Linked DNA regions of Homo sapiens: region 2 is linked to region 1. Evidence: fine-mapped expression QTL. A gene starts in region 1. The other region holds a variant in brackets. All regions are shown on one strand. Distances are from middle to middle.

The links.
Region 2: its variant is fine-mapped to the expression of TRPC6 in whole blood (INTERVAL, PIP 0.92).

The regions. Positions count from the first base shown.
Region 1 is chr11:101,582,926-101,585,425 of GRCh38, forward strand. It overlaps TRPC6 (transient receptor potential cation channel subfamily C member 6), which reads right to left and starts at 1,082. Exons shown (of 13, transcript NM_004621.6): 1 at 409-1,082. The coding sequence starts at 578.
Region 2 is chr11:101,551,932-101,554,960 of GRCh38, forward strand. All of the region lies in intron 1 of TRPC6 (transient receptor potential cation channel subfamily C member 6), which reads right to left. Among named protein-coding and RNA genes, the nearest start is that of TRPC6, 31 kb to the right of the region's middle. The variant C/G (reference allele first, on the strand shown) is at 1,620.

The sequences.
Region 1 (2,500 bases):
GGCTAAGAGTCACCCGGGCGCACATCTGAATCAGCCCCCTGTTCAGATCCCGCCTGTTACGTAGCGATCCTGTCTCTTGTAGAGCGCAGGATGAAGGGGTCTGGAGAAATCGACCACCCATCTAATCACCTGCAATGGTGGTGTTACTATGCGGTCTCACTCTCGTGGGCAAACATATCCATGCGTACCTACGAGGAGCAAACCTAGACAACCCCGCCTCCCCCACTCCCCGCGCGCCCCTCCACTCACTCAGGTCCCAGCCCTGGCTCTCGCGGACCTCCCAGCACCGTCCTAGGAGGTACACACGCGGGTTCAGGACGCGCGCGGACGGACTCGGCCACTCCTGCGAGCGCACAACCTCCCTCCGCGCAGCCCGCGCCCGATCCGCCCCGCGTCGCCGGCACTCACAAGCAGGGGTAGTAGCCGTAGCAAGGCAGCGGGGCTTGCGGGCAGCCGTCTTCTCCCAGCTCCGAGTCCATGAGCAGATAGTCCTGGCTCTCGTTGCGCCGCGCAGCGGCTCCGGCAGCGCCCCGGGGAGAACTGCCCCTCCGGGGCCCGAACGCCGGGCTCTGGCTCATGGCGGGAACGCCCGACTGGCCTGGGCCCCGCTCCCGGGGGAGCCGAGTGGGCAGTTCCAGCGGGGACCCGGTGCGGAGGGTTCGCGTCAGCGGCCGAACTGGACCTGGGCAGACCGGTGCCCAGGGGACGACGGTGAAGCAGGGGGTGCAGACGCCCGCCGCAAGTGGCTCGCCCACTGGCCCGGGGAAAAGTCACCACTTAAGGGGGTGCAAAGAGGATCTTGACCTGAGCAGGTCAGGCCGAGGAGACCCCGCGAGGATGCGTCTGGGGCGCCCGGGCAGAGAGGGCACAGGCGGGGCCGCTGGTGGTAGCGAAGCGTAAGAGCGGAGAGCAAGGGAGACGGAGCTGAAGAGTTACTATGTCAACAGAGACTCTCCAGCCCTCAGCTCCCGCCTTCATCCCCCGCACTCTCCGTCAAGATCCCCACCTTTAAAGGGATCCGAGCGACGTTCTAGAAAGCAGCCAAAGCCTGTCCTGTAGCCACAACTTTCAGGAGGCGGTATGAGCCTGAACTAGGAGGAGCCAGGCACGCACTCTTTTTTTCCCCTCCACTATTTAGTTGGCTCATTTAGTAAGGATACCAACTGCGGACTTCGTAGGAAGCTTCCTTTAAGAACCACTCTCAAAGAGCCAAGGAAACCTGTTCCTTAAAAGGGACACGAGCCTCTTCTTTCTCCAGACTGCCTTCATTTTCTTTGGTCATTTTCTCTCTTACCCTCAACTCATAAAGTTATTATGACTCTGCTTTAAAAATGAACAACGTTCTATGTTCCAAACGCCAGATGTTCCCAGTTCCTGAGAAAACCAACAAAAATAGGCAAGCATTTTCCAATGATACCGATAAAGAGGCCAACAACCTGCTTACTTCAGAGAAAAAATTTTCCTTCCGTCACTGCGAATGCAAGAATGATTTCTCTGCCAGATGTTTCCCACGTTTCCAAGCTGTTTTATTTTTAAGACTTAGTTTTAAATTCTGATTAATATGCATACGTGTGAGAAGTAAAAACTTGTCAACAAGGATGAATCAGTATTTGTAGACCTTTAAGCAGTAGTAGCCAATTAAGAATCCATTCATTAAGTCAACAAATATTTAATGAATGCCAACTGCGTTTCAAATCATTTCAGAATTCGGAGGCAAAGAAGCAGATGAGGCACCTGTCTGCCCTCATAGAGCTTTCGTGGCAGAAAGGGGGACCAATTAAATAAGCAAATGAAAAAATATCAAGGACAAATGCTACAATGAAAATAAAACAGGTTGATGTGATGGCAGCTGGTGAATGACTACTTCAGATGAGATGGTTAAAAGAGGCCCCTCCAAGGAGGTGCTCGTTAAGTTGAGACATGCATGGCAAGCAGCCAGCCATGAAAAGATCAGAGGCCCATTGCAATTGGATGAAAGAAAGCCAGACTGAAATCTGTCTGCAAAGGTGCCTTTGCTTCCCATGAACAGGTGGACAACAAAATGAATGTTGGAAGTGTGGGAAAATGCAATTGATTTGATAGAAGGGAAAAGAGCTCACACATTTAGAAACTTCTGAGTTTGCCTTTAAATTTAGAACTGAAACTCAGAGAGAGCAGAAACCACTGTGTCCTGAGGATCCAGCTTCGTATTTGACACAGGTGTGTAGGGTGCATGCATGCATGCTTGGGTGGGTGAGTGGGTGGGTGGGTGGATGGATGGATGGATGGACGGATGGATGGATGGATGGATGGAAGGAATATAGAAAAAATAAGAAAATGCTCTTGGCCCTGGAAAGAACATTTTCCCTGGGGAAACAAACAACCTGCATCATTCTGAAGTCTGTTCTTTCTGATTTAACAGCCTTCCTTTTTGATCTTTCAACATGTGGAGCCATGATTTAAAATTCTTATAATTTTCTAGTTACTATACCTAGCAATAAGATATTCTTCCTAAAATTTG
Region 2 (3,029 bases), 31 kb before region 1:
TTTGTGTCTCCTTGTAGAAACTGGGGCTTGGGGAACTGATACAAAAATAAGAATACACTAGCTCCTGTTATTGCTATGATTAAAGGTTGTCCAACTTTGGCCCAGGAGGTTTGTGTCTTTTATCGGCATCCATGAAACTATGGCGGGCCATCTTGTAAGTTTGCAAGTAAAAATCTCAGACCCTTCACAGTTCTTTACACCAATAAGATCATATACTTGATGCACCCTTTATAAGTTATTTTCAGAACTTAGAAACTTAGTTTTCTTTTGTTAAGTGAAGCCAGGGCCATTCACTGCACATTTTCCACTGGGCAGCAGGTCACCTCTAGCTGTAAGAAACAAGAAAGATGACGAAGAGGAGAAATCAACGTAACCCATGTTTGAAACACACAGTGGCCTATATTTGAAAACATAATAACAAAGCCACATGAGGCTGGCTTTTCTAATCATCCAAAATTACTTGGCTCTAAATATTTTCATCACCTTCTGTCTCAGCAGTTTATATGTCAAGAAACAAAATGGTCCAGAAAGTATTTGTACCAAATAATAAAGCTTTAGTCAATCCATTCTGACACAAGGCAAACTAAGGAGGTGAGTCAGAAAGTTCAAGTTTTGCTCTTCAGACATCTTTCTTCTGTTTAGGTTTGTTTATTTGTTGCCCAAATCAAAAAGTGAACACTGGTTTATGATCCAACAACAAATCCTACAAGAAGTTTAGTCTTAGCTATTAGATTATCCATTAAAAAAAATTCTCCATCTAATTAAGATGATAAATGTCTCAAACTCTGCATAGTTCCTCTATAATTCCTACATTATTATTTTTCAATTGGTACTAAATATACATCTTATAGCCGCTCAGGATCAGGTCTAATTCTGGGTTCTGGTTAGTGTTTGGAATAACATGAGTAAATGATATGGCATAAATATAAATGATAGTGACAAACACTGTCAAACTTTATCCAGTGTGGTTTTTCTGTTTCAAGTGGCAGAAATTAAGTGAAAATATCATAACCAATAAATGTTTATTCTTTTATCAGATAACGGCTGAGAAATATGTGGTATTTGGCTAATGTGAAAAGAGAAGCTTCCTTAAAGTCTGGGTTTGCAGAAATTCAGGAAGTAGAGTATTAATGGGAAGTAAGATAGGGTGAGGTAGAGTATTAATGGGAAGTAAGATAGGTGATGTAATCAAAGAATCAGTGCCAGTCCCCTCTTTCTTCATCTGATTCAAGATCGTGAACCTGAGCCAGCTCTGATAAATGTAATAATTCTAGACAGTGAAGTTTACCATTGAAACACTGAAGTTGACTGCAGAAACCAAATGCTGTTCTAAGCTAACTCTTTCCTGTAACCTATCCCATCTCTGCCTACTCTGATACCAGCCTTATTTTTTTTTAATTTTTCTTTTGTTTCCTCCTGACTAGGCTTTGTAACCCTCTCACTGAACCTTTATCACAGCTGGTATTCTATTTCAAACTGGATAAACAAAAGAATAATTGAGATGAAACCATAGGCTAAATGCAAATATCTCCCGGCCTATTAACTCCTATTGCGTTCCTCACCTATCGCATCAGCCCCTCTTGGATGCCAATGTTAGTTTAAAGCAAGTAATGTTAGTC[C/G]CGTGCCTTTGGACATTATACTCTAGATTGCTGATCAGTACTTTAGAATCCACCCAGGTTGTGTTTCTAATAGTTTCCAGCTTTCCTCCCTCTCAACCAGCTCACCTACTGAGAACTTAGCATACACTGGATCACATTCACTAAGAATTATAATATATTCTAGCACACATGTATGGATAAGCTCCTCTATTTTATTCACATCTCTTTTGGCTCCCATAGCTACTTTTAGAAGAGTAAGTGCACTCATACATCATTCTCTCCACAAAAAGATTCTTAAGATTTATCGTGTCCCAGATACCAAGCTCAGTAATAGGGTATATGTAAAGGAAAATGAGACAATTGAAAGAAAAAATTAAGTCCCTGCTCTATACTAGATGCCGTTGTAAGTGTTCATAGTTCTGTGGGGAAAATGTTTATGTGAACACATTTCACACATGCTTTAAATGCTATGCTAGAGGTATGTGCAATGCACATGGAAATACAGAAATAGACACACTGGACTCTGCATCAGTTGAAGCTGAATTCACTGGCCGGTGACTTTTAAAGAACACGTGGTCAGATGCAAAATGGTTCTATAAATAAAGAGGAAGGAGAAATCAGTGCTCCAGGCAGACAGACCAGTATATTCAGTGAAATGGATGTGTGAGACAGTATATTCTATACTGTGTCTCTTCAATAGGAAGAACTGAAAATGAAAATTGTTCCTTTTCACTTCTGCTTTTTATTAAGAGGCCAGTAGTAGAGAAGCTGGAACAACAAAAGAAAGTTTTAGATTTGCATATAAACTTTTGTTTACATTTATGTTATGCTTGGTATGTTAACTGGGCATCTAAGCTTATTTCAAAGTAGAGCAATAGTAAAAAAAAAAAATTAACCTGTTAAGAGAATAAACAGTGGCCTGATTATGTTGGAATCCTTAATGTTTCCCATGTTTGCATGAATGTATGTATAAAACATATATATAAATTGGGAATATGGTGGGTTTTCCTGGTTTCAGTGTGAGACACTGACCTCTACAGTATCCTTCAGTGCCCTGGCCAGTTTCAGGTGGTGGTTGCCCAGTGCCAGGCAATGGGAAGAATCAAGTTATAAGCCTCACTATATTTCTTTCCCTGCATCACCCAAAAAGTGAGGAAAAAATTTTAAAAAACAAAGATGAAAAATAACCAATCAACAAAATTCTTTATTAACTAAAAGTTAATGAAAGTTATTGTAAACTCCAGCCTAAGAAAGATAGCAGCTGATCTTCTTTCAAAGCTGAATAACACCCTTAATCAATCCCAGCCCTATTTCCTTGCCCTAGCTTGTCCTCCCACTGGGTGTAGGCACATCACCCGCTTGACTCCCTTCCCTCTCTGTCCTCTCTAAGTTTGTCTTGCTCTCTATGCCTGAGTCTTAAAACAGGCCACA